7 separate regions of the Homo sapiens genome follow, and regions 1, 2, 4, 5, 6 and 7 are each reported to be linked to region 3. Evidence: microRNA targets listed by miRTarBase, many of them from high-throughput screens and not tested one by one. Region 3 holds a microRNA gene; each other region holds the end of a gene's coding sequence.
The links. Region 3 holds the annotated microRNA hsa-miR-122-5p (UGGAGUGUGACAAUGGUGUUUG, at 2,890-2,911, opposite strand). A microRNA usually pairs through its seed, bases 2 to 8, with sites in the 3' UTR of a target mRNA and lowers its output. Matches are read on the target gene's strand: a 7mer-m8 pairs with bases 2 to 8, a 7mer-A1 pairs with bases 2 to 7 and ends in A, and an 8mer does both.

Region 1: miRTarBase lists PLXDC2 as a target of hsa-miR-122-5p. The part of its 3' UTR that is shown has no 7-base or 8-base seed match.
Region 2: miRTarBase lists STARD13 as a target of hsa-miR-122-5p. The part of its 3' UTR that is shown has no 7-base or 8-base seed match.
Region 4: miRTarBase lists A2M as a target of hsa-miR-122-5p. The part of its 3' UTR that is shown has no 7-base or 8-base seed match.
Region 5: miRTarBase lists SUMO1 as a target of hsa-miR-122-5p. The part of its 3' UTR that is shown has no 7-base or 8-base seed match.
Region 6: the mRNA of FMN1 is a reported target of hsa-miR-122-5p. Seed matches in the 3' UTR shown: 7mer-A1 at 3,564-3,570.
Region 7: miRTarBase lists NFATC2IP as a target of hsa-miR-122-5p. Seed matches in the 3' UTR shown: 7mer-A1 at 1,806-1,812, 7mer-A1 at 2,648-2,654 and 7mer-A1 at 3,714-3,720.

Annotation. Positions count from the first base shown.
Region 1 is chr10:20,279,242-20,283,309 of GRCh38, reverse strand. It overlaps PLXDC2 (plexin domain containing 2), which reads right to left. Exons shown (of 14, transcript NM_032812.9): 14 at 1-3,607. The coding sequence ends at 3,491. Among named protein-coding and RNA genes, the nearest start is that of MIR4675, 270 kb to the left of the region's middle.
Region 2 is chr13:33,102,070-33,106,137 of GRCh38, reverse strand. STARD13 (StAR related lipid transfer domain containing 13) reads left to right here. Exons shown (of 14, transcript NM_178006.4): 14 at 428-3,001. The coding sequence ends at 545. Among named protein-coding and RNA genes, the nearest start is that of KL, 88 kb to the right of the region's middle.
Region 3 is chr18:58,449,931-58,453,998 of GRCh38, reverse strand. MIR122 (microRNA 122) reads right to left here and starts at 2,925; the gene lies at 2,841-2,925. It overlaps MIR122HG (MIR122 host gene), which reads right to left. Exons shown (of 3, transcript NR_170245.1): 3 at 2,718-3,180. MIR3591 (microRNA 3591) reads left to right here and starts at 2,847; the gene lies at 2,847-2,919.
Region 4 is chr12:9,064,546-9,068,613 of GRCh38, reverse strand. A2M (alpha-2-macroglobulin) reads left to right here. Exons shown (of 36, transcript NM_000014.6): 35 at 390-431; 36 at 775-906. The coding sequence ends at 791. LINC00612 (long intergenic non-protein coding RNA 612) reads left to right here and starts at 3,544. Exons shown (of 3, transcript NR_034140.1): 1 at 3,544-4,068. It overlaps A2M-AS1 (A2M antisense RNA 1), which reads right to left and starts at 3,437. Exons shown (of 2, transcript NR_137425.1): 1 at 3,386-3,437; 2 at 559-2,788. It also overlaps a transcript of KLRG1 not described here. RefSeq lists a silencer at 4,049-4,068.
Region 5 is chr2:202,203,617-202,207,684 of GRCh38, reverse strand. It overlaps SUMO1 (small ubiquitin like modifier 1), which reads left to right. Exons shown (of 5, transcript NM_003352.8): 5 at 364-1,503. The coding sequence ends at 432. It overlaps KIAA2012, which reads right to left. Exons shown (of 24, transcript NM_001277372.4): 24 at 2,497-2,687. Among named protein-coding and RNA genes, the nearest start is that of SUMO1, 33 kb to the left of the region's middle.
Region 6 is chr15:32,770,628-32,774,695 of GRCh38, reverse strand. FMN1 (formin 1) reads left to right here. Exons shown (of 21, transcript NM_001277313.2): 21 at 342-4,068. The coding sequence ends at 386. Among named protein-coding and RNA genes, the nearest start is that of GREM1-AS1, 54 kb to the right of the region's middle. RefSeq lists an enhancer at 1-1,128.
Region 7 is chr16:28,963,010-28,967,076 of GRCh38, forward strand. It overlaps NFATC2IP (nuclear factor of activated T cells 2 interacting protein), which reads left to right. Exons shown (of 8, transcript NM_032815.4): 8 at 696-4,067. The coding sequence ends at 854. NFATC2IP-AS1 (NFATC2IP antisense RNA 1) reads right to left here and starts at 3,435. Exons shown (of 2, transcript NR_186408.1): 1 at 3,407-3,435.

The DNA.
Region 1 (4,068 bases), not on the chromosome of region 3:
GTTTTTCTTTTCCAAAATTGCAAATTGAGACTCAAGGAGGTTGAAGTGATTTTCCCAAGATAACACAGTGGGGATTTAAAGCTGTGTCAGCTTGTATTTTTTTCATTACTCCATAGGGCCTCTCTAAAATCAAAAATGCTTGGATATGCCCAAGAGCTACCAAATCTTGTTTCTTTCCTCTTCTTCCCTTTTCTTCAAGGACAACGAATTCAAATGAAACACAGCATTGTCCATTAAAATTTTCTTCAACCACGGAAGTGTTTCTTGTTATCCAATATGGTAGCCACAAGCCAGGCGTGGCTATTGAGCCTTTGAAATGTGGCTGGTGTGACTGAAGAATTACATTTTTAATTTAATTTTAATTAATTTTAATTTCAAAAGCCACGTTGGCTAGTGGATATAATATTGGACAGCACAACTCTAGAAGCTACATATAAGAGATTGGCAAATGCCCTTGATACCTCAAACTAAAATAGTAATTGGGGGTCAATTGCACTTTTAGTTTTCTAGGTGTTAGTATATCTTGAAGTCCAAACCCTTCACACACAAGCCACCATTTATGGTCAGTGCCATCTCTTGGGCTTAAGCCATTTATGCCTGAGGTTGCAATTTTTTGAATTTTTGCAACCAGACCTTGGTGATGACCTTGAGCAGTAGGCTCTAAATAACTCCCATAAGCTTAGCGTTCCAATAATGGAACACTAGACATAAATGGGTCAAGATATTTTTCTTGAGTTTCAGTATCTTTACCTAGTCACTGATTATTATTTTTACAAATAATTAAGCTGAAATAACTAAATTCCTCTGTAGCACCATTTATCTGATTTATCCAGAAGTTTGCATCTCTTTGTTATCTTTTTTTGTTATTCTATTATGTTCATAGTATATTAAGTAATGTACAGTTGCACCTTCTCTAATACATAATTATGTAAAGTCCAAAGCATTGATGACCATTTTGAATTTTCAGAAACTGTATGTTTTCTCACATGGGAACAAGAACAAACCAGAAATATAAAATAGAATGAGAGTTTCATGAAAGAAAAGGATTTAGCCCACATTTCCCCTTACCACTAAAGAATTCACACACCACACACTTCTCACTACCTTTAACTCTTAGTTCTGTTAAGAAGTTTTCCCACACTCCAGTTTCAAGAAGTTTTCTCTATTATTTGTTGCTTTGGTTCACTGAAGAATTCAGTGTTTATGTTTTTTTACAGAATTATCAATTGTTTTGAATCAAAATAGAAAATTGATTCAAAATTGTTTTGAATCAATTGTTTTGAATCAAAATAGAACGCTGAAGGGTATAAGAATAACATTACTACTTGAGAATTAAGTAGTACTTAAGGGACACAAACTAAGAATACACATGCAAGATTTATATAACTGTCAAACAGTTGCTATTGGAAGCCACAGCTACCACAAAAGGTAGTGAAAGAAGCATCATTTTATCCTAAAAGGAAGTCGTCTATGTGTTCCTTATGCATTTGTAGAATACCAGTTGCACCAGTAATATTGGCATGTCATTTGGTTATTGCTGTCTCACCAAACCTGCTCCACAAGAATAAGTGGGGATACTTCACATAAACCATACATAGCTGCTGCAAAGAGATTGTCATCACAATCCTTCAATCACCTTGCTTTTCAAAATTTTTTTTAATAGTTAACTAAGTTAGGAAAAAGTTACCATCTTCATCAAATACTTAAAATTGTAAAGCAAAATATATGGAATAGAAAATGGCATTCGTTCACGTCAGACACTTGTGATGATAAAGTATGGTACTCTGTGAGTGGACTGATGACCAAGGCAGATGTGTACAGATGCTAAACTGTTGGGAAAATGCTGCTTATGAGACATCTCTGCTTCTTGAGACCTGAATCTGCAAATGTTGAGCACTGTACCTTACAAAAGCCAACAGTTTCTTGGCACAGAGTGTAAAAGTTTCATGGGTTAGAATGTTGGTGAAATTGTACACTCAGTACCTGAATTTAAACTTTAGGAGCTCAGTATGTATATTAACCACTTTCCTTCTCAAGGGATGCCATTCCTTTCTTCATTCATGAGGAATTTTCAAAATCAGGATTGTGATTCCAAGGCAATCGATATCTCCATTTAAGGAGCTTTCTGCATCCACTTTATTTAGCCAGAGAGGGAAGGGGTTGACATAAACGAAAAAGTGGATCAAATAGTCAAGAACATGATGGGCGCGGCAATGAACTGAACCACTTTTGCTAAGTGACAGAAAAATATTCTAATATTAAGGATTATTTTACAACTCTATGGAAGTAATGCAGTGATGCATCTTGCATCTGTTTTGCCTTGATGACAAAACGCACTCTTAGAGTCACAAGATCCTGCCTTGTGTTAGTTATAAACAAAAATATATTTATATATATATATTTATGTAACTACTATGTGCTTTAAAGAAAATTACTGTATGATTCAGCAGGGTTTTTTCATTCTTTCTATCGCCATGCTGACGTGAATGGCTTCTTAGACAGGAATCAGCAATGAAATGGGTGTTTAGTACTGAAAAGGCATAAAATTAAAAATAATCATATGTTTAAAATCCCTTAACATTTTTGTTTCAAAAATGATTAAGGAACTCTTCATACTGTTTCCTTTTGTTTCCATCAGCCCAGAGCAACTGTGGTTTCATGGGACTTAACAGTTGGGGATTGGAGGTAAGGCTTCCATAAAGCATAAATCAGATGTTTTCATGCTGAGGCAGGAAAACAGAAAGCCCCGTTTGCCACCCCCTCTTCCCAAATCCTTAGTTAATTGTTCGGAAATTTTGTCACAGCTCATAGAAAGGTCATTCATTACAAAGGAAGAGGCAGACATGGTTTGAACCTCCTGTACGGATAAAAAGATTCGTTCTGTAAAGTGATGAACTTGTTGGTACAGATGGATCTAGACCAGAAAAACAACATCCTTTTGCCACACATCTGTTTTGAAAATGTAGAAAATCTCTTATTTTGTGTTTGTTCTCACTCTTGCATGGGCTGTTTTTCTTAGCAATCTTGAGACATTCATCATTGCTCTTTTGAGTGAAAGGGTTCAGGCTTTGGAAAACAGTTATCTTTGAGACATCAGAGAACATTTGAACCAAAGGTGTCGATCCCTCATGAACTAAAGCTTTATTATGATTTTTTTTTTCTGATCCCTTTGCAACCCTGCACCTAAGCCAAAAGCATTATAATCTTGTCATACTTCAGATAAGTCCACGGGAGATGTTCCGAGTGAACTATAGATGACATTCCACTAGGGAATTCTATGTTCAGTGTAAATGGTATCTTGTATAAGTTTTAGTTTTTTGTTTACCCTTTGTTTCCTGGGCTGAGCTTGTCCAGAAATCTTGTCTTCTTCAGGCTACAGCAGCTTAGAGCTTGTTTGTGTGTGTGTTTGTTTGTTTGTCTTAAAGGTATAGGCAAAATTTTAGTCTTAACACCTGTAAACCAGTACTGGTGTTGTTCTGTCCTAGAAATTTTAGCACTGCTCTGATACAATAAAGCCTTCTTTCTCTCCAACTGGTTCAACTTCAGCATAGGCAGGATGTCCAGAGCCTCTTCTAAACTTCATCGCAGGCCATCTGCTTGGGCGTCTCTGAAACAGAAAACACAAAAATAAAAAATGTGCGTCAGGGTAAGATTCTAGCACCAGAAAAATCTATTTGCTAGCTATTTTAGATTAAATGTTGAATTAATTAACACATTAAATTATCTCTTATTATAGCTACAGTCAGAATTAAGAATTCCCCTTATCAACCCTCCAAGCCCTGTGCTTGCATTTCCAAGATGGCGCTATCTACCCCTGTCACAGGAAAGACCATTTGTCACACCTGCCCTCAAAGGATTCAGAGCTTCTCCCAAGCAAGGTTTAATGCCTTATGCATATGTCTGAAATGCTCAAATATAACTAGGCAAAAAGGAACTGTAATAGAAAATATTTTTTAATATATGGGCACAGACACTCTCTCTTCTCTACAAGTCAATACTGATATCACTTCATTTTGTTCATTAATTCACTCAAAAACTAAGGTCAAAAAATTCTGCTGTTCCTAGAAG
Region 2 (4,068 bases), not on the chromosome of region 3:
ATGTATTTCTTTTATGCCTGTCCCCTTTTGCTGCTCCCTCTGGTAGTTCTTTGAGAAGTAAGTAACTTACATCCAACCCCTTCAAGGCATTCATGATGCTAAACCCAGTTCTTGGTCTGGGTAGACAAAACGGAGTTTTCACAGTAAATTCTGGATTTCATCTGAATCTTTTCATTTTACCCCAAGATGTTGGTATCATTTTAAAGCACCTGATGAGTACTCAAATGACAACATGAATACTTAGCAGCCAGGACGTTTTCAAGGCCCCTGATGGCAGAATGACGTCCTGAGCCCCTCAAGGCAGCAGCCCGAGCTGTCTGCAGGTTCACTGGTCATCGGGGCCCAAGGGCAGCCCTGTCCACCAAAACTAATTGCTGTGATTTGGAAACAAACTTTCCCACTTCCTTTCTGATTTCTTTCCCCACAGAGGTCACTCCCCAGAATGGTACAGCAAAGGCTTTGGACATCTGTGTGCAGCAGAAGTTGCCAGGATTAGAAACTCTTTCCAGCCCCTCATTGCTGAGGGCCCAGAAACTAAAATCTGAGTTTTGCCCAGTGTGACATCAAACTCAGGGAAGAGGAAGCTAAAGTGACGAGTGTGGCAGAGAGTGTGCATGTGAGAAAGCGAGAGAAAGAGGAACTGAAGGACGCGGTTAATGCCTAAAAATGGAAACGTTAAGAAGTTGGAATGTTGGAGATGCAAGAATTTCCAAGAACTTTCTTAGCCTTCCTGGAGATGGCTACATCCCTACTAATATAATTTTAAAATGAGAACTTTATATATATTACTTAAAATTAAATGGACTATTCCTTGTGCATTGCCTAATTTGCTATTTAAAGGCTTCTAAGAAGCGTATACCTAACTGTAAATAAATGTATGTATAGCATATGTACATATGTGTGTATATCTCCATCTTTACTGTATATATGTAAAATACCAATTTTATATAGAATTGTGTGTTTTGAAAATGACGGTGTCTGACTCAGTGAGTCCCTTCCTCACACAGTTCTTTCCAAGTGGCTCTGGGCCCCATCTCTCCACTGTCCTGTAAGCTGTGCAGAACCTGCTGCTAACACCAAGGTGTGAACATGCCCTGATGCCTAACCAAAGATGAGTTAACCAAAGGAAAATAACATTAAAGGAGACTTATGTGTTAACGCTTTGTTTCTGCTATTCAAAAACTGAGAGTGGAGATCTGGGATAAAGCAAGGAAATAATAATTACTCCTCCTTAAAGCAAATGGGGGGGTGAGAAGTCATTACCAAATTTAAAGCTAGATGAGGAGTTGCCACTGGGCCCAGTAAGATGGAATTTCAGTGAGATATGGACCACCGGAGTCAGCGAGAGTGACTGAAACAGAAGCGATACCTCTCGCTCCCATGCCCATCACTACAGACCCCAAGTCAAGATGAATATCATAGCCTTTACTTCTTCACAGCCAAAGGGAGCCCCTGTGTTGTCTCAAGTTTTTATAAATACATTTCATAATGTTATTAAATGTCATTCTATTTGACCAGTGGCCTATTTGGTCACAGTTAATTGGTGTTTTCTTATTGCACTGAATTCAACTCCAGACACCATACAAAGGGAGATGATGGCCATTCCGTTCAAATCCTAGATCGTTACAGCTTCAGGGAATTCATATTTTGTTATGTGTAGGATACTCTTAAAATGTAATTCATTAAACTTTTACAATCTGAAAGACAGGGTTTTTAACTAACATGAGACCAAAACTATGTTCTTTGATTAGTTTTAGATAGTATAATCGGGTTTATTAATTCTTCTGTGTTTCTTCACTAGCCAGTCCAAGCTACCTATGCATTTGACCCAACCTTATTTATTATTGTACAGATGAAGCGAATTGACTCCCTTTAGCCAACTGCTAATGGATCGAATGTGCTTTTTATTGTAATTCAACAGCTATAGAGAGAAAGATAACTTATTGTGTGTTTGATTTCAGGGAGAGAGATTTTCTTTGGTCATCCATAATAGAGATTGATAAGATTTAGCAACTGGTGTTGGAGAAAAAAAGAAAAGCAAATGAGTGTTTTCAGGTTTTTTTGCATTATATGCATTTATGTAATGTTTCTGTTATCAGCAATGTGCAATTATTTTATTGAGAGGAATAAAAAAGCTTTCTATGAGTTTGGTATGGTGCGAGGAAAATCTTACAGTTTGAATTATGACCTAGAAATTTTTCATTCCCATATCTACCTAAGAAGGAAGCAGTAAATCCATAATTTACCTTTTGGGCAATGCTTTGTGAGCAAAACAAAGTCACTTCTGCCATAACATCTTGAATTTAACCATATATGCCAGATTACTTTATATGCATCAACAAGATCACCAGTGAAGTTTAATCTAGCTAAACACTGGTCCTGCTCCTGAGATGGGATCCTATGTGTTTGGAAAACGTGATAGGCACACGAGGATGAGTGGCTTTGTATCGCCCAGAGAGGTGCTTGTCCAGATTTCACATGCACATGAATTGCCTGGGGATCTTGTGAAACTGCAGACTCTGCTCCAAGTAATCTGGGCTGGGCCTGAGATTCTGCATTTCTAAGGAGTCTCAGGGATGCCTATGCTGCTGGCCTAAAACCACACTCAGAAACGAGGACCTAGAAGATCCCTAAAACAGAATAAGAACAAATGTGATTGTATTTCTGATTCTCCCTCTCTTCGAATTATCTGACTTTTTTGTTTTTGTGCACATAGTAATCATATCACCGCTGCATAACAACACAGTGCATCTTTTTAAAACAAGGAAAAGGGAAAAAAAGGAGAAAAAACGATGCATCAAGCTTGTTTGTCAAATACCACAGTATTTTATTCATTGTTATCTTGCCAATGGAAATAAAGTATGATATTGCATTTAAATATTATATTTATACCTCATGTATATTTTTACCTCAATTGTTGATATCAATCATCAATTGTAAATAAATAATTGCCAAGGCAAATAAATTTATATATATTAAATATTTCCTATTTTCTATAAAATAGATGTTGATTTTCATGCTTCATCTTTAAATGGAAAATTTGCTTCATGAGGAAGATTTCTCCCAAGATAGCCTGCCATGACTTTGACTCCTTGGTACCATCTGTAGTCAATACTGTCTTCAAATACAAAGAAGTTGTTGTCAACAGACATTCACTATCAGGCTGGGTGCCTTAACCTGGATCTAAGGGATTAAAGTGATGGGTGGGGATTTTTTTTTCTTAAATTTCATTGTCCTTAAATCTAGAAGTTATAATTCATAATTTTTTTCATATTCATAATATTTTTATCAAAGGTTTAGTAAACTCTTTAGCTACATTTTATTTTTGTTAAGTGGACAAGAAATCAAGATATGATGAAATGACTTACAGCCGCACTACTAGACCATGAAAAGTAGCCACAAATGACTCTAAATCTCTTCCCTTCTACCCTTGAAATCTGAGCATCTCTTCTAAATATCAGCCCAGAGAGCCCTTAAGAAAGCCGGGGCTCTCAAACATTCTCAGGCACAGGCTTCCAAAGCCACAGAAGCCCAGAAGACTGTATGCCCCTACAAAAGTTGTCCCAACTCTGCTCTCTTATCTCATGCACACCTTCCCCTCTTACTTGCAAGTTTTGCTTTCATAGTAGGCAAAGGGGGAATTCAATGGCGCTTTTTCTCTTCTACATGAAGGAAAAGAATGTGATGGTCATTCTAGCAGCCGCAGGCTACAGATGTCCTGAGAGTATGGATCATATGAATTCAAAGGTGATTCTTGCTAATTACTCTGATCTCATCACCATATATGTATCAAAACATGCAGTGACTATGTACCCCACAAATATGTACAATTATTATTTGTCAACTAAAAGAACTTTGAAAAGGAAAGAAAAGTTTTTTACATTATTCCAAACACTCTTCATGAAATTCTTAGACATAAAATTGTTCCACCTGTGTCTTTTGATATTTGGTTACAGAAAAACTGGACATATGGTTCCTTCTCAGGAAGATAAATGTAAAGGTTTAAAACAGACCCCAACCAAATGGAGTGTCACATTCTGATACGAACGCAAAGTCAATGTGTGCTGA
Region 3 (4,068 bases):
GGAGGGAAGGGGAGATAAAAGCTGGTCTGGGAAGATGCCATCATCAGAGATTTGGAGCAGCAGGATTGTAATTAGAGGTAGAAAGGGGAGAGGGAAGCTTTGCCTTCTATGTGTGTTCCTTAGAGATCTACAGAAATGACAGGTCTCCAATCCCGAATGCAAAACGAATCCAGGCAGCAATCATAATAAGCCATTAAATGAGCCAACCTAGCAGAAAAGACACAGAATGCTATTCACTTGGCTCCCTGTTTAATTCCACCTGAGAAAAATCTCAGGGTGAGTGGGAGTGAAAAGGAGCATGGAAGACCCAGTCCTCACATTGTCCCCGAGTCTGGGAACAGTTCAGAACCTCAAGACTCTGGGTCATTTGGTGCCACATCAGGTGGCTGGGTCATGTAGATGGCTGCTTGGTGTTGGGACAGTTTGTCTACCCTCTTCCTGACCCCAAAGCTACCACTTAGATGTTCCTTCTCTTTCATTTCATGATTACAGGGTTTTGCAATTTTCAGCTTTCTCTGCACAATGAACACTCACAAGGAGACATTCTTATATGGCTCATCCCTCTCTAATTTACAGGTTTTCCCTCAGAATCCACTGACAAAGCAGATGGGGAGATGAGGATATTGATCGCATACTGGCGTGATTAACCCAGGTTCTACACAGATTCGACTGTGAAGCATGAGATTTCACAAAATAACTAGGCCAAAGGAGGCTGCAGGTACAGGACAGAACTTTAGACTTAAGAGATCCATGTTGAGTTGTGGCTGGAGGACCAGACGATTCCAGAACCCTTTAGACTCTGTTTGTCAAACCGATCATCTTTGCCCCATGTTGTATGGATCAAATGAAATGGCATGTGATATGGTTTGGCTGAGTCCCCATCCAGATCTCGGCTTCAATTGTATCGCACAGAATTCCCACGTGCTGTGGGAGGGACCCAGGGAAAGGTAATTGAATCATGGGGGTCAGTCTTTCCCCTGCTATTCTCATGATAGTGAATAAGTCTCACGAGATCTGATGGGTTTATCAGGGGTTTCCACTTTGGCTTTTTCCTCATTTTCTATTGCTGATGCCACGTAAGAAGTGCCTTTCATCTCCCGCCATGATTCTGAGGTCTCCCTAGCCATGTGGAACTGTAAGTCCAATTAAACCTCTTTTTCTTCCCAGTCTCGGGTATGTCTTTGTCAGCAGCATGAAAACACAGACTAATACAGTGTGCATGAGCGTGATCTGTATAACAGTAGAGCCCTCTATTAATGCCTGTTCAATTAGAGCCTTTGCCAAAAAAATACACACAAAAAGGAATGTCAGTGTCTCAATTATTTCAGGGAGTCTGATTCTCTTCTTGACAGTAGATGGTGCCAGGAGGGAAGAAATGAGAGGTGGTAAGAGATGCAGGGCAGGCAGGGGTGCTCTTCTTCTTCTTTGGACAGAGGCATCTCATGACCTTGAAGCCTTTGTAGTGTATCATAAATGTGTGGGCTGCATTCAGGTGAGGCTTTCCAGCAAGGGACTCAGAATTATTTCGCAAAGTTTTGCTCATTTGGCTCCCGTTTGGAACAATTACAATGGTCCCAAAATATAATGCGAGCCAGTGAATGCCCATCTCTGGAAATAACATCAGACACATTTAATTTAAAAGTGTCTTCAATGCCTAGGACAGTGTCAGGCACACGGTAGTCTCTACACATATTTATTTCATAAGTGAATGGTTGAATGGTTGAATTTGTTTCTGATGGTTGATCTAACCCTGTCTATTTGATTAAACATGTCCTACTTCATTTAACCAAGCCTGGGGAGGGAAGCTTTAGTCTGGCACAAACGAAACCTACTCCTGACTTTAGACACCTCTCAGAGACAGAATGGGTTCCAAACCAGAGCACCTGGCTGGGCCAACTGTCCTAGAAACTGCATGGGTCCCAGATTTGCTATGGCAGCTCACACATGCTTCATAAACAATTTTCTGATGGTAATTCACTGATGCAAGAGGAAGAAAGGCCTAGTGTACGAATTCAGTAATCAGCCTAGTAATTGATTGAAATCAGTAGAAATCAAACATATTCTAGAATTTCTGAAACGTCAGTGAAACCATGTGTAAGTTTATTAGAAAGTTGGATTTTTTAACGACGAAAAGAGAAGGACCCACACACCTTAATTTTGTACCTATAAGCTTGCGGTCTGTCTGCATAACATAGATTTAGCCCAGTCTTAGCCTTCTGCGTCTAACACTTTCCTAACTATTCATTTTAAGTCTATAAGCATGGGTTAAATGATTACCTCGTGCCTGGCCTTGTGTTGGGGGCTCTGAGGAACTCTGCAATCTTTTTATTTTCATTTTTTGAGACAGGATCTTGCTCTGTCACACAGGCTGGAGTGCAGTGGTACCATCACAGCTCACTACAGCCTCAACCTCGTGGGCTCAATTGATCCTCCCACCTCAGCCTCTCAAGTAGCTGAGATTACAGGCACATGCCACCATGCCTGGCTAATTTTTGTAGTTTTTGTAGAGACACGGTTTCACCATGCTGCCCAGGCTGGACTTGAACTCCTGAGCTCAAGTGATCCGCCTGCCTTGGCCTCCCAAAGTGCTGGGATTTCAGGCGTGAGCCACCGTGCCTGGTCTGCAATCTTTTTATTGACTTGGGAAAACAAGAAAATTAATCACCAGCTAAGGTATGTAACAACAGCATGTGAGAGGCAGGGTTCAGCTAACCATATTGGTTATGAGTGCAAAAGAGCCAGACTTTATTCAGTAAGTACACAAGATTGAGAAGACTGATATCAGATGAACCTTCTTGCTCAAAGCAAACGATGCCAAGACATTTATCGAGGGAAGGATTGCCTAGCAGTAGCTATTTAGTGTGATAATGGCGTTTGATAGTTTAGACACAAACACCATTGTCACACTCCACAGCTCTGCTAAGGAAACTCTGTAGCCACGAAGGTGTTAACTTCACCTCCACATTCCACCATTGTCACTGATAATAGGGGAACCTTGTCAGCTCCACATATTGTGACCTAAGCAGAGAAAAGAAGCATCACGGGTACAAGCATCTTGAGCAATGGGAAGAGCTGAACACTCTCAATGAAAGGCTTCTGTGTTCTGGAACAGTAGAGTAGTAGAGGGGTCCACTGCCTGTGTTCCACTGCCACCCAGCAAACCCCTTCTGCAAAAACTTCCTGTGAAAATGGACAGGAACTCTGTTTGCAACAATTTTCTAAAATGGCTGAGAGAGAAAGAATCTCTAGAGGGAATAGATTTCTGGAAATAAATACTTATTGGAAGACTACATTATAAATGAGAATAATCTGGCCGAATGAATGGATACTCTCCAACTCTCACCTCTTCACCTACTTCCCAATCCATCATCAGTAAATGTGATCAATTCTGCAGTCTAGGAAAATTAAAATTATTTTATATGGGGATACAGCAGTTAGATGTGTTGTGATCTACTCTCCGTGGCATCTATTGGATATAAAGGCATCTGGTCTTGCTCAAATGTTCAATCTTCTTGACCACAGTCATTTTCCACCATGGCGGTGGGTGGGAGATGAGGGGAGAGAAGAAAGAGAGGAAGATGGAGAGAGAGGAAACGAGTCCATTTTTAGTTCATGATACTCATTTTCTAGCAAAAAGGGAGCTCCAAATAAATCCCTACAGGATTTACTTGGCTTTCCTGTTAAAGATGGTTTATAATTGTTATGTGAACTCCTGCCCACCATGGAGAATGAGAGGAAATAAAGCATTTTACCTACTCCTTCTTTTCCTGCAAATGCTGAAAAGGGAAAGGGTTGGGAGCCAGTTATTTTTTCCCCAGGATAACTGAGTTGTTAACATCTGACCAGAGTCTTGCTTTAGCCCTAAAACCGGCCCATCTTTAACAGCTGTAAATGAACCCTTCCGTATTTTTCAGAAAAAAAAAAAAAAAATTGCGCCTTATTCTCATGTAGATCCTGAAATCACCCTCTTCAAGCTGGACTTGCAGTGATTATCCCCCTGCGAAAGCTGAAAGTCGTTCTGCTCCCATGGGTTGGAGTGTTGAAGTTGCCTCTTTTTTTCTTTCCCTT
Region 4 (4,068 bases), not on the chromosome of region 3:
AGTCTGATGCCCCTCTTTTTGTCTCTTATACATACATTATAGAAACAACCTACATTATAAATTTATCAACTACTAATACAAAACACCTGTGGGATATTTAGTTCCCTTTTCATCAGATAAATGGACTGTATGACAATATGAGATTTAAGTAAGTAGAACATCTGAAGAGTCCTTCAGGAGTTTGGGATAAAAGAATATATAAAACACTATATTTGAAAGGAGAATATAAGGTAGCAAGCAACACATCAGATGAATGATGCTTATGTTTCTGGTACAATACTGTTCTTCCCACAACAAACTCCTTCCTTGGCCTGTATCCCACAGATGTTTGCTTTCTTTCTCACTTCATGTAATGATTTCTGGTTTTTTGTTGGTTTTTTTTTTTTCAGATGAGTTTGCAATTGCTGAGTACAATGCTCCTTGCAGCAAAGGTAAGCCACTCACACTCCTCCAAAAGGCAGTCAGAGCTCCTTCAGCTTGCCCCCCAAACCTTCTCCTTCATAAAACGCTGGGTAAATATTTGTCAAAAACATCAAATTACTCACACTGCACATTATTATAGAAAAACACATTTATTGGAGAGGGCCGCTGACTCTGTCAAACCTCAGAGAGTCCATAGGATTGCTTATGGGTAATGATTTGGAATAGATTTGGTTTCCCACTGTACTGATTAGGTTTCCTTGGGCACTATGCTACCCAGAACTAAGGGAAAGAATACTCTCTGCTCATGGAGACCCAAATCTGTCTTAATTTTTTTTCTTTCCAATGTCACAGATCTTGGAAATGCTTGAAGACCACAAGGCTGAAAAGTGCTTTGCTGGAGTCCTGTTCTCAGAGCTCCACAGAAGACACGTGTTTTTGTATCTTTAAAGACTTGATGAATAAACACTTTTTCTGGTCAATGTCTTTCCCTGTTTCCTGTTCATTCAATAAATATCATTGTACATTTCCATATGATTCCCAATAGAATACCAAGATTAAACTTAAAGGAATCAAGTGCTGAAGGACTTCAGAATACAAAAAAATGATACAGTGATGTCGGTCTGAGTAGGCTTCATGTAAGGACTGTGGGGAAAGAAGAAAGTATTGGGTTATGTACTAGGAAAGTGTAAAGTGTGTTTGGTTATGGGAATACCCTATGAAAAACCCAAAGGGTGAATTTTTATGAGAAAATAAAAGACTGACTTCACCAGAAAAGACTTTTTACATTAAAATGAAGTAGAATGAAATACAACATTGAACATGTCATATTGAGAGGCAAGATAATTGGGACTTGACCTGAATTGGGAGTGATGTGTCCTATGTTACACCAAAATCTGCCACTGATGAGAGTGATCAGTCAGTTAACCTGGGGTTTCAGATTCAATAATAGATGAGCTGAAAATAATGAAGGGAGGATTCATGCAGAAGCACGTTTTCTCAGAAGAAGGAATGTGTATGACTCAAAGTCCAAATAGGAGTATTATATTGGATCATCTTTCTTCTGGAACTTTGAGCCAGGATTAAAGGATAGCTGTAAAGTCAAGGAGATATTCTGATGCAGAAATCAGTTCTCACAACATCTGATTGATGTCTGATGTCTCACAACATCTCTTTAGTCTATTTTTAAAATATATAATTTTCTTTGCAGTAAGTATTGCGACATATATTTCCATTCTATAGAAGGGGAAGCAAAACTTCAGGAGTTTTTGAAGTAGGAAAGGTTAAAGCAGGAGGATTGAGCCAAGAGAGTCTGAGGACAATCGTAGGAGTCCTACTCTTCATTTGGCACAAAAATGACAATGCTTAGTTAGGCAGAAGGTGAGTATGGATTGTATAAACTAAGAACTGGAAAAGACTTTGCAGTTCAAGGAATCCTTAGCTCTGTCTCCAGGCTAGACAAAATAAGAAATAAAAGCTATCACTTCTGTGTGGTGCTTATAGAATAGAATTAACATATCAGCATTATGGGATCTTTAGGGTGTCGCTTTCCTGGCCAGTCTAGTGGCACCTTTGCCTGAGTTTTGCTCTGGGCCCACTGGGCTGCTTCTGCCCACTCGCACTTGCTACCAACCTGGATCCCGGATCCAAGGGAGATTGAGACGGGTGGAGCAGAGGGGTGTGCTAGGGGTGTGTGAGCAAGCGTGGCCACTGTGCAGTCACACACACAAGCTGCTGCCCAGGTTGGGCAGCTCCAGGTGCCAGCACAGGCTCTCCATGAGGTGGCTGGACCAGGCACACAACAAACAGCTTCCCCCTGGACCAGGCGCATCACAAGCAGCTTCCAACAGTGGCACTGGCGAATGCAGTGACGCCAACCAGGGCCCCAAAGAGGGAGTCACAGCCCGGGCTCAAGGAGCTCCCAGGTCTGGGCTTCTCCGAGGGCCAGAGCTCTTCTCTCCCTGTGGGGAGCAAGGGGCATGTTGCAGCCCTGTTTGTGTTACAGCTCTTTTAACCTTGCTGTGCAGCTCCTCAGCTCCTGCATCAAGCAGACAAGTGGAGAATGAGACAGATGAAGAGGAGCATTACTGAGCAATGGAACAGAAGGATAAGGAAGATGAAGAGGAAGGAGACCTGCAGTTAGTAGCTCATTTCCACAGTAAGGATGTCCTTTCCACAGCAAGGGTGTCCCAACGAGTGTTCAGCTTCTAGCAGAACGGAGACCCTGGAGTGGCTGGCTCCTCTCTGCAAACAGGTCTTCCCATTGAGTGTTCAGCTTTCAGCAGAGAGGAGGTTCTGGAATGGGTAGTTTCTCTCCACAGGTAGGTCATCCATTGTCTTCCCATCCTCTCTTCCAATCTAGCTGAGTCTGGGGGATTTTATGAGCCTCAGAGGGAGGAAATGCATGCTGATTGGTCCATGGGCAGCCATGAGTGGGCCCAGGGAGCAGCACCACAAGTTACCTCTCTGGTCTGCAGGCTTCAAGCCCTCACCAGCTTGAGGGTGGGACTTCACTGGGGACCCATCCCCTTCCACCCAGGAACCTGTCTGCCTCCTGCTCCCAGGCTGTTCATGCCAAGGAGCGCCTGCAAGTCAGTGTCCAGCTGTCTTCAGACCCCTCTCAGCCTCCCTCCCACGCTTGTTGGTGCCCAAGTTCCAAAGGGGGCCGAGACGGCAGGGGGCTGGCGTATCAGCACTGTCCTGAGCGTGTGCACGCTCGGCCAGGCTGTGACAGTACCCAGGCTCGGCCCGACCTTGCTCTGAGTTCAGAGTGGGTGCTAACAGTGGAGAGAAGCCAGGCAGCCGGAGTAGGCACCCTGGAGCCTGCAGTGGGCAGGGGACTTTGCTGGGCCTCTGAGAGCACAGAAAATGTCCACAGCCGCGGCAAGGTGGCTGCAGCTGCACCCTGGGAGCTCCTGCTCCACCAGTTCGGAAGGGGCGGGGCTCCTGCTTGTCCCTGGCTCACCTGCTCCTGAGTGTGCAGGTCCGGTGGCGCCTCCTTGCAGGCTGGGCTGATGGGCGGGGGCGGGGGGGGGGGGGGGGAGGAAGGGAATGTTCCAGGTCCTCCCTGGGCCCGGGACTGTGTCCGGGGCAGGGATGACGTCGCTGCAAGTTCTTCCCGTGGCCCCGGGGCTCAGGGGCAGCCCAGGACTCTCCCTCGCCCGGCTCACGGCCCTGCCTGGGGGGCGCCTCCGGGAGCAGATCACGAGCCCTGGGGCTCAGCCCTCAGGCGCGTCTAGCTCGGCGGTCACCCCAGTGCCGGGAGGACCCTGAAGACGCGCCCCAGGCGGCCCTACTCAGAGCCTCCTCCCAAGGCCCAGGAATGCGGCGCTGTCGGAGGTGTGCGCGGTGGCCACACCGCTGTCCGGGTCCCCAAAGCGGGCCCCGCTCCCACTTCTCGCCTTGGCCCCGAACCCTGGGTCCAGCCCCAGCGCTTTGTGTGCGAACACCGCTCCGCCCCGGACCCAGCTCCGCCTTGGGGCCCCTCTCTGCCTGCCCCTCCGTGCCCGACTACACTGCTTCCCCTCCGGCGGGCGACTCAGCCCGGTCCATCGTGGCGGCTTCCAGGGCGGCAGGCTCCGGGAGTACTCCCGGGGCCGGCTCCAAGGACTGTTCCCCTCCTCCCCACTCCCACTCCGCGGCGGCGGC
Region 5 (4,068 bases), not on the chromosome of region 3:
CAAAAACAAACAAACACCAAATTAGATATATCCTATTAAACTATCACTTAAACTATTAAATACATGTTTCATTAGATTTAAAAGTTCTTTAACATGGCTGTCAAAAACACTTCAGTTTTATATAGCGAATAAACTGGGAAGTGAAATTGACTCAGGAAAGTAAGATGCATAACTAAATAGACAGAATCAGAAGGAAAGACACCTCTATATTCTTTAGATTAAAGAACACAGGATTCTTAATATTAGAGGAGTGTAAGTATGGGTCACATTTGGATCTCTTTGCACTTTTAAATTAGTGGCCACGTAATTGTAGTCAATTTAAAAACTGCTTTTATAGTCTAACATTTTTCTTTCCTCTTACAGCTGGGAATGGAGGAAGAAGATGTGATTGAAGTTTATCAGGAACAAACGGGGGGTCATTCAACAGTTTAGATATTCTTTTTATTTTTTTTCTTTTCCCTCAATCCTTTTTTATTTTTAAAAATAGTTCTTTTGTAATGTGGTGTTCAAAACGGAATTGAAAACTGGCACCCCATCTCTTTGAAACATCTGGTAATTTGAATTCTAGTGCTCATTATTCATTATTGTTTGTTTTCATTGTGCTGATTTTTGGTGATCAAGCCTCAGTCCCCTTCATATTACCCTCTCCTTTTTAAAAATTACGTGTGCACAGAGAGGTCACCTTTTTCAGGACATTGCATTTTCAGGCTTGTGGTGATAAATAAGATCGACCAATGCAAGTGTTCATAATGACTTTCCAATTGGCCCTGATGTTCTAGCATGTGATTACTTCACTCCTGGACTGTGACTTTCAGTGGGAGATGGAAGTTTTTCAGAGAACTGAACTGTGGAAAAATGACCTTTCCTTAACTTGAAGCTACTTTTAAAATTTGAGGGTCTGGACCAAAAGAAGAGGAATATCAGGTTGAAGTCAAGATGACAGATAAGGTGAGAGTAATGACTAACTCCAAAGATGGCTTCACTGAAGAAAAGGCATTTTAAGATTTTTTAAAAATCTTGTCAGAAGATCCCAGAAAAGTTCTAATTTTCATTAGCAATTAATAAAGCTATACATGCAGAAATGAATACAACAGAACACTGCTCTTTTTGATTTTATTTGTACTTTTTGGCCTGGGATATGGGTTTTAAATGGACATTGTCTGTACCAGCTTCATTAAAATAAACAATATTTGTAAAAATCATACTAATGCTTATTTTATTTTAATTGTATAGAAAGAAAAAAATGCCTAAAATAAGGTTTTCTTGCATAAATACTGGAAATTGCACATGGTACAAATTTTTTCTTCATTACTGTACAGTGATGATGTTAATGACTTTGAAGCACTGAAAGTTACTGAAGTGCCTTCTGAATCAAGGATTTAATTAAGGCCACAATACCTTTTTAATACTCAGTGTTCTGTTTTTTTAAAAACTTGATATTCCTGTATGGTGCATATATGATACAGTTACCTAATCATGTTGAATAAATGGGCATGCCAAAAATTCTTACTGGATTTTTATTGATAATTTCAGTTCTTCCTTTAACAAGGTACAAAGTGGTAAGGTTTGGTATATTTTATGTTTTCCTTTTATTTCTTTATATCTTTTTTTTTTTTTTTTTTTTTTTTGAGACAGAGTCTCACTCTGTCACCCAGGCTGGAGTACAGTGGTGTGATCTTGGCTCGCTGGAACCTCTGCCTCCCGGGTTCAAGTGATTCTTCTGCCTCAGCCTCCTGAGTAGCTGGGACTACTCGGGACTGTGCCACTACGTCTGGCTAATTTTTGTATTTTTAGTAGAGATGGGGTTTCACCATGTTGGCCAGGATGGTCTCGATCGCTTAACCTTGTGATCTGCCTGCCTCGACCTACCAAAGTGCTGGGATTACAGGCGTGAGCCACCGTGCCTGGCCCAGCCTTATTTCTTTTTATCTTAAATATTTAAACTTTGTGTAAAATTAAAATATCAGATTAGTTTGTTCCTATTAGAGGGCTTAACTTTTCCTTTTAATGCTAATGAATCACAGAATTTACATCTATGCATACATACAGTCCAGTTTCATGTTATCTCAAATAGAATGTCATCTAACTACTTGAGAAGACCAAATAAAACCCACTTTGAATGCATTTTATAAACTATTATAGCTTACATACCTACTCAAGTCACCTTTTGAGAAAGAGATTGATTGGCTTGATCTTATAATTCTTATGTTTGACCCTAACTGAAAAATTATTTGTATGGTATAAGTTAGAGCTTTTAGATTGTCACCTGATATTTATCATTATGTTCATTGAACAGTGACTAGGAACTAGGCCCATTTTAAGAAAATCCTCATGAGTTGCGTATTTCTGTCAAGATTGAATAACAGATCTGATTGGGTATTTGAACTATGAATCTGTAGTTTGGTATCTTAATTTTGTTTGCGTCTCTGAATGTCTGAAGACGCTCAGGATTTTGGTGGGACTTAGCTACTGGGGAAGTAATTTTCTTGTTTTTAGTTTTTTGGATTTTTCGAAATGCATTGCACTCTGATATGGTTAACTTAAATGTGTGCTTATCTGGTTAGCAGTGCTGATAAAATAGGCATTTCACAACAAAAATTTTAACAGATTATCAGATTTCTGAAGGGACCTTGAATAACATTTAGGGAAGTCACTCTTATCTGGTGCTTGACTGCAACATCCTAAATCTGTAACAAAAGGGAGAAAATAAAGTCAGCAATGGTAATTTCCCCCACAAGGATGTTATCCTCAAGTGTTTGTTCTGTTGTGGGTTGAATTATTTGAGATGCTCCTTTCTTATCTGATTAAGTAGTATTGAATGAATTGATTGAATGAATGAATGTCCAGGTAGGGTCCACAAGCTTGAGAAAACGTTTATATGACATATTTAAGTTCAGTATGACTGATACTATCTAGTGTTTGACTGTTTTATTTCTGTTTAATTTTTACAAAAAAGGAGTTAAAATAAGTATCAAATCTAAGCACATCTAATAACAGCAATACAGACTACAAATAGGTTGGATTTCTGGGTTGTAAAGGTGTAATTTCTGTAGAAAGCAAATACCTTACAAACATTAATGAGGAATTGGAGGGGATTACTTGCAAATATTAAGCTTTTCATCTGTGGACAGTTAAGTATAGAGTAGGGCCAAAAGAAATTTGTGAAAAAATTCAGTTCAGATGCTCTAGATTTAAATAACATCCTTTTATATAACTTGTATGCTAAAAATATCTTTCTTCATTTTGTTAAAGGGATATTTTATTAAATATTAAAAGAGATGTTAAATATCTAATCAAGTCTCATCCTGGGCCAGGCACAGCGGCTCATGCCTGTAACCCCAGCACTTTGGAAGGCTGAGGTGGGCAGATAACTCGAGCCCAGGATTTTGAGACCAGCCTGAGCATCATGACGAAACCCCATCTGTACTAAAAATATACAAATTAGCCAAGTGTGGTGGTACGTGCCTATAGTCTCAGCTACTTGGGAGGCTGAGGTGGGAGGATTGTTTGAGCCCAGGAGGTCAAAGCTGCAGTGAGCTGTGATGGCGCCACTGCACTCTAGTTTGGACGACAGAGTGAGACCCTGTCTTAAAAAAAAAAAAAAAAAACAAAAAACCGCTGGGTGCGGTGGCTCACGCCTGTAATCCCAGCACTCTGGGAGGCCAAGGTAGGCGGATCACAAGGTCAGGAGATCGAGACCATCCTGGCTAACATGGTGAAACCCCGTCTCTACTAAAAATATAAAAAATTAGCCAGGCATGGTGGCGGGGGCCTGTAGTCTCAGCTACTCGGGAAGCTGAGGCAGAAGAATGGCGTGAACCCGGGAGGCGAAGCTTGCAGTGAGCCGAGATCGTGCCACTGCACTCCAGCCTGGGCGACAGAGCGAGACTCCGTCTCAAAAAAAAAAAAAAAGACATCCTGGTAGAGTCAATGTAATTTTTTCAACTGGGGAAATTTTTGTGGGTGGTTAATTCTTCAGGGCACAGGGGCTAAAACTCAAGATTTATTAATGTTCAGGGCTCTAGAATAATGCTGCCCAATAGAACTTCCTGTCATGGAAATATTCTA
Region 6 (4,068 bases), not on the chromosome of region 3:
ACGGAAGGGGTCCTTGAGTAACACTACAAAGTTAGGGTCTTTGTCACAAAAGAAGAGAACAGAAAAGACCACCCTGGCATGGTAAAGGCCCGTGTTTTAGATGGATGTAGTTGGTAGATTGGCTGGTTATTGATTTCTTGTTTGTTTTTCTGGGGAGTAAGGGTGATAGGTAGGGAGGGGCAGATAACTAAGAGCTTAGGGAAAGCAGTAGAGGTACTCTCATTTCTAGGCCATTTGGCACAATTCCGGAAACTCAGCATTCTAGACCAAAATTTGAGAAATGTATCAAAACTTGAGAAAGATGAAAGAAAATGATACATTCATTTTTTTTTCCTTAACAGAAAGAAAGACTGCGTCAGAAGGAAGCCAGTGTGACCACTAACTAAGATGAAGACACATGGAAATGATGGCACTGGAGGTGGAGGACCTTGCACGCATACTCTTTGTGACCACAGGGTTGCAGGACGTTCTTGAAAGATGTGTCACTAAATGTTTGTTTTTGCTCATCTCTTTCTGAGGTCATCTGCAGAGAGTGCCCCATGCCTTCTTTAAGAAGTCCCTCATTAAGCCGCAGGAACAATGGAAAACTATTTAAGGGAACATTGCAGAAATATTTGATGACTGTTTCTTGTGGAAGCCCAAAGTCCACTCTAAGAGCAGAAGAAATACCAAAATGTTTCCAAAATTTTTTTAAAAGCTGAGATTTCCAGCTTTATAACCAAAGCTTGATATATGTCACATTGTCACAGAAGAGAGAAAAGATCATTGAGGACAGTTGCCTTGGGAGAGTTCAAGTCTTTGTCGTTACACACTGCTGTTTTGATTATTGGTCTTAGTTTTGATCCTGTTGCAGCAAAATCCTGCAGCATCTTTCTCTCCAATAATGTTGCAACTCACCAAAACTATTCTTGAAGAGGTCCAAGAACATGTATTATCCAGACTAAAAAAATGATTTTTTGTTGTTATGGTTTACGTGATGAAAAGGAGAAAAAACAGAATCATACCTGGGTGGAGAGAGGGAGACAAATAGCCATAAACTTCATCCTGGAGAACAAGTTACCATGCAAGGAGTTGACATCAGTTGTTAAGTGAGGCCCATTCTTGTTTTTACATCGGTCCTTTGTGGTTTTTCTGGGCCAGCAGAGATTCTGCACCCCAACTCCCAGGAGAAAATGTAATACCTGAGCAAGCACAGCCTTGGGTGTGCTTGGACAAGAGACCCAGCGGCAGAGCACCTTTTACATTTTGGACCGTTCATGAATGGGCAATGTTGTGTTGATACGCAGCCGAGTTCTACGTTATGTGCTGTGACTGTGCAGCTGGACGACCCCCATCCCCAGGAGGCAGTTTCCAGACAGGAGAGCAAATGCAACTCACAGCACCTGCTCATGACCTTGGCTGATAGGCATGTGAAGTAGGATGAAGCAGGACTCTTTAATGTCAAAAAAACTGAAGGGCAGAAAAAAGGTTCCTTACATCAAAATGAAAGTAATTACATTAATAGAAAACTTCCAAGTGGAATATTGTTCACAGGCAGCTCTTTCTGACCCTGGCTCTTGAGTCACATAAGGAAACCACCTTTGACCTCTCTGACACTTTTGTCTTTAAGCCACGTCTCTGAAATCTTGTGAGGGGTGAAGAAAGAGGACTGGAGATGAATGGACAATATGATCAAAGACTCATTTTTAGGCCTTGAAGAGGCCGAGCTTTCTCCCCCCAATTGGTGGAGGACAGTCCAGAGATGAGCAGAAATCTTAAATTCCTTCCTGATCCAGCCTCCACATGTGGCCTGCCCCTTGCCCCAGCATCTTTCCAGAACCCCTGGACTTGCCAGGTGCCTGAGCATCTTCCCAGGATATGCCTGCCAGCCAGCAGCCCCTCAGGAATGCTTCTATAATAGATCCAGTAATGAAAGCAGCACCATATCCTAATCTAATGTCAGCTTCGAGAATGAAGACTGCAGTCAGGATCAAATCAAGTCACAGAAGCCATATTCATGCAGGTGCTAACCGCCTTTTCTACTGGTGCAACTGAAAGGAATATGGTAACATGGTTGGATTTTTAAAATTCACAATGAAGGAACGAGACAAGCAAAACAGAAAAGCCGAGAAGGAACATGCATGACTAAAAAGGCTTGAAGTTGCTTGTGAGCAAGAAGCTTTTTATGCTGCTTTCTTACATAGTTTCTCTTCATTTTCACTTAACTCTGAAGACAACCAAAAGAACGGATCAATTAAAAACTGATTCCACTTATAACCATTGTATGCTCCTTCTAGTGTTATCATGCACAAGAAAAGTGCCAGTTTTACCCATGCCATATAATTCAGCTCTTTTGAGTTATGTGGGGCCAGCAGAAGTCTCAATCCTTATAGGCTTGATGGTGAGAGCAGCGGGAGGTTTGAGGTGTACTCATTGCAGTCCACTTTGGTCTGTAAGTAGGATGCTTACGAGAAATCAGTGAAGGTAAGCAGGGCTGCCACTGTGGCCACGTAACCCTTCAGGAACCAGTGCTGAAGAATAATGAGTGAGAACACTTAATTTGAGAGTTAGACAAATACAGCCCACTTTGGATTTCATCCTAGTGAACAGACTAAAACTTTGCAGTAAAATACCTATTTCTACAAAGCAAGGTTTGCCTGCCTCGGTTGGGGAAACCTAGTGGTTTTGTCACACTAGTCGATGTATGATGTTAGTGTTGTAAGACACCATGGCAGAATCTTCATTATTCTCACCTATTCTGAACCCTGCATCATGTATCTGGGATGCCCCCTCCCAAGTCCACCAATGTACCACGTTGCTGACACAGCCTTCATTTTTAACTCAAATTGATGCTCAGTAAAGGTCAATGACAATTTGTTCAAGGAAGTTCATCTAAAATAATCTGGAGGCCTTGAAAATGATCCCTCTAAAATGCTGTTGAGCTTGTGTTCAGTGTAGCAGGAGGATCTGAACTTTTCCTGGAGAGGAGGTGATCGGGATGCCATTTGGCAGCTTAAGCACATCCTGCCAGCAGGCTTTAAGTGGCTGTTCTAGGCATAGCCCTCCCTGAACTAGAAAGGAGAGTAACCAGTTTGCTATGCTGCATCTAACCAGACACACCTGACTTAGTAGTAACTCTAAGAACCCTTAACTTACAAACAACTTTGTCTCCTCTTAGACAATATTCATTAAATCTGAGGACACAGTTTGACAGTAGTTCAGATTCTTGCATGAGCAATTGACAGCATCAGAGCACACAATATCATAAGTTACATAAATTACACAAAGTACATCATAAATTACACTACAGACACGTTAGGTAAAAAGCATCAGGCCCGGGCCGGGCGTGGTGGCTCATGCCTATAATCCCAGCACTTTGGGAGGCCAAGCGGGGGCGGATCACGAGGTCAGGAGATTGAGACCATCCTGGCTAACACGGTGAAACCCCATCTCTACTAAAAATACAAAAAATTAGCCGGGCGTGGTGGTGGGCGCCTGTAGTCCCAGCTACTCGGGAGGCTGAGGCAGGAGAATGGCGTGAACCCAGGAGGTGGAGCTTGCAGCTAGCCGAGATAGCACCACTGCACTCCAGCCTGGGCGACAGTGAGACTCCGTTTCAAAAAAAAAAGCATCAGGCCCATGAAGTATCAAAAACCAGGTTAGGAGGTGTGCTGTATGGCTTTTATCTCAATAAGTGGCAGCTTACTGGGGAAAAAGAAATAAGAAAAAGTGTGGCCAAGCAGAAGTGGATGTTTATGATGACGGTGGGGGCCCAGAGGTCATAGGTGATGGTCCTACTGCCCAACAGTTGCCTTTTGAATCCTTATGTTGATGATGGTGTCTTTCTACACACTCACTGCAACTACTCAGGAATTATAAAGATTTTCTGAAATCTGAGAAGTGGAATAAGGAAACCCAGTGGAGCTATTACACTTTTAAATGTTCTAGCCAAAACAAATTGCCAGTATGGTTGAGGAATTGAATATCAGATGGCATGCAGTCTCCCCTCCCCTCCCCTATCAAGGACAGTAGAAGCTGCAAACCTCTTCTCAGCCTCCTTCAGGCACCTCCTGTTTTCATAAGCACCAT
Region 7 (4,067 bases), not on the chromosome of region 3:
GTCTCTACCAAAAATACAAAAACTTAGCTGGGTGTGGTGGCCTGTGCCTGTAGTTGCAGCTACTCAGGAGGCTGAGGCAGGAGAATTGCTTGAACCCAGGAGGCAGAGGTTGCAGTGAGTTGTCTACCAGTCCCACGGCATTAGCACTCGTCCCAATCCAGTACAACCTCAACTTGATTGCATCTGCAAAGGCCCCGTCTCCAAATCACATCACATTCACACTTAACAGGGGTTAAGACCACAAGGTGTCTTCTCTGGGGAACATAACCTGTAACATTTTTCTAAGGTCACATATCTAATAGGTGGGAGAGCCTGGCCTCCAGCTCGACTCATCCTCACTCTAGAATCTGGGCTCTCTTAGTCATTGGTACACACTTCTGTTTCATAGGGAAGGAGGCTGAGGCTAGGAGGACTTGCCTGACTTAGAGCCTATACCCCTAAGCCTTGGGCTCGTGGCCCCCGTCCTCTACCTGAGCAACTTGGAGCCCAGAGGGATGACAGGATTCGTCCCAGCTCCCAGAGAGGAGCCTGGCTGGGCTGGCTTCTTTGTCCTCTCTCCTTTCCCCGCATGGGGCCCTGACTTTATTGTTTCCGCCCCTGCCGCCATCCTCCCTGTCCCAAGTTCCTCGTCTATCCCTACGGGATCCCCGCCCCCTTTCATGTTCTGACGTCCATTTTCTTTTGTCTCCATCCAGGATTCCCCTCTAAAGACCCTCATGTCCCACTATGAGGAGGCCATGGGACTGTCGGGACGGAAGCTCTCCTTCTTCTTTGATGGGACAAAGCTTTCAGGCAGGGAGCTGCCAGCTGACCTGGGCATGGAATCTGGGGACCTCATTGAGGTCTGGGGCTGACACCCCACTCCCTGTTTGACGGCCCAGCCTGGACTTGGGGAGAATGACTTTCCCTTTTTTGCCCCATAAGGGCTAGCATAAGCTGAGGTAGAACTTATCTTTAAGCTGCAGCAAAATCAAGGAGTGACTTTTGTCCCCTCTCCTGTTGACCCTGGTTTAGAGCCGTTAACCACTTGGTGAGTTATGTGGGTGTTGTTGCCCTGGGTGGCCTGTGGCTCCGTCCACAAGTCATGCTGAGTTTTGCAGCCTCTGTGACTTGGAGATGTCCCTTCACCCCTCCCCTTTCACCACCATCCTCTTTTCCTCATGGAAATGTCTGCTTTATGAAACTATGCACATATTGAAAGTGAGTTGAAACAAATGAGGGTTGGGTAGGAGCTTCCAGGCCTGGGATTTACACCACGCCTAGCCCAGCAGAGGCCTTAGTCCCATTTGGGGCTTGGGAGTGACATTTGCTTGAGGCTTATACACTGGTGTGGTTGCCTGGCTTGCAGGAAATGACCAAGCTCACACATGCTGGCTGAAGCGTAAGCAGACAACTGAGGTACTCTTTTGAAGGATGAAGGTGGTGGATTCTCAGCCCTGGGGGTCTTCCTCACCTGAGGACCCTTCAGAGCCACCCTTTCTAGTTTGCATTTCCTGGTGCACACATTTAAGGCATAACAGCACATTCATCCCTTTGGTTTGGGATCTCAGGAATACAGTCCCATGCAAAGATTCTCTGGTTTTATGGCTTTTTTCCCTTTCTTTACACCATCCTCTCCCATAAGCACCCATGTCTTTGAATATGAATGTATTTGTAAAATACCACGTTTCATGTGTGAATATGTGCTTTTACTGTACATAGTGCTATTGTGCAATAGGTCTTATGCTGTTTTCACTCAATGTGTGCTAAGATCTAGCCCCATTGACTCTTCTAGAAATGCAGTATTGCTTTGACCTGCCATGTGGCACTCCACAATGTCAATTGCAGTTTACACACATTGCCTAAAGTGGGGGACACCTGGGTGCCCCTGACCCCTTGGCACCGGATACAGGCCACGATAAACATCCTTTCGTGTGTTCCCTTCTGTGCTTGTGTGGCATGTGTACCCAGGATGGGCCTATAGGTCACAGAGGTCAGTTTCTCTTTGGTTTTCCAGATTTTCTTTAGAACGGTGACTGACCCTCCTACTTGAGGCCGCCCTTTTCTCCTTATCCTTGCCAGCACTTGTATTGCCAGACTACCTAATTTTTGCCAGTCTCATGGGTAGATAGTGGTGCAGTGCTTTAACATACATTCATCTGATCAGCATTAATTTGGGGAATTTTTTCACTTAGCCTTTCTGGTTTCCCTTCCTGTGCATTGCCCATTTTCTCATGGAGTTTCTTATCTTTTTTGGTTTATTCTCAGGAGTTGCTTGTACATTCTTGGGCAATTGCAGATAATTCCAAGAATGCATATTTGGGCTGGGTATGGAGGTTCACTGGTAATCCCAGCACTTTGGGAGGCCCAGGCAGAAGGATCGCTGCAGCCCAGGAGTTCGAGACTAGCCTGGGCAACATAGCGAGACCTCGTCTCTACAAAAAAAAATTAAAAAGGGGGCTTTGGGAGGCCAAGGCGGGCAGATCATGAGGGCAGGAGATTGAGACCCTCCTGGCCAACATGGTGAAACCCCGTCTCTACTAAAATACAAAAAATTAGCTGGGCATGGTGGCGCACACCTGTAGTCCCAGCTACTCTGGAGGCTGAGGCAGGGGAATCGCTTAAACCCAGGAGGCGGAGATTGCAGTGAGCCAAGGTTCCACCACTGCACTCCAGCCTGGCGACAGAGCAAGGCTCCACTCAAAAAAAAGATTTAAAGGGGAAAAAATTGAAATTTTCTTTGTATCTAGGGGTATCCGTCACTGAACAGAAATTCTTAATTTTGGCTAGGCGTGATGGCTCAGGTCTGTAATCCCAGCACTTTCGGTGGCCGGGGTGGGTGGATCACTTGAGGCCAGGAGTTCAAGACCACCCTGACCAACTTGGTGAAATCCCATCTCTACTAAAAATACAAAAATTAGCTGGGTGCAGTGGCGCATGCTTGTAATCCCAGCTACTCAGGAGGCAGAGGCAGGAGAATCACTTGAACCCGGGAGGTGGAGGCTGCAGTGAACAGAGACAGTGCCACTGCACATCAGCCTGAGTGACAGAGAGACTTTGTCTCAAAAAAAAAAGAAAATTTTAATTTTAATGTAGACAGTATGAATTATCTTGTTCTGCAGTTGGTTGCTTTTTGATTGCTTATTTAATAGAGTTGTTAAGATATTTTACATCTTCTCCTGTTAGCTGTTCAGCTTTTCCTTTCATATTGAGAACACTACACAGTGCTGAAGTCCAGCTGGTACACACCGGGGTGACACCTTGGCTGCATCTGTTCTCAACAGTCAGACACTTCTTCTAATTGGTTGATGCTGGGCTGTACTGGTTGCTAAATATTGCACATCATTTTAAAACTATTTGAGATGCACTTTTGTACTCAGGAGGCCAAGGCAGGAGGATTGCTTGAGCCCAGGAGTTTGAGACCAGCCTGGGCAACACAGCGAGACCTTGTCTCTTAAAAAAAAAAAAAAAAAAAAATGAGAGAAATCGGCTGGGCATGGTTTCTCATGCCTGTAATCCCAGAACTTTGGGAGGCTGAGGCAGGTGGATCACCGGAGGTTAGGAATTCAAGACTGAAACCTTGTCTCTACTGAAAATACAAAAAAAAAAAAAAAAAAAAATGAGCTAGGTGTGGTGGCAGGCGCCTGTAATCCCAGTTACTTCGGGAGGCTGAGGCAGGAGAATCGCTTGAACCCAGGAGGCAGAGGTTGCAGTGAGCCAAGATCGCGCCATTGCACTCCAGCCTGGGCGACAAGAGTGGAAACTCTGTCTCAAAAAAAAAAAAAAAAATTCAGTGAAATACACCTTTATATATGAGATCCAAGTTTCACTTTTTGTGATATAATGAGCCAGTTTTCTCAGTAATGTCTACTAAAAAAAAAGCCATTAACCTTTCTCTAATATTTGCATGATTCTAATAAAAGTATGTCAACTTCTTAAAATGTTTTATTGAAATGTGGCATTCCTTTGAATTTTATGACATTAAAATAATCCACGACATGGTACAGCTCTTCACTTTTTCAGCTTTTTAAATGTCCATTAATAAGTTTGAATACGTTAAAATTATATGTTTAACCTCAACAAAATAA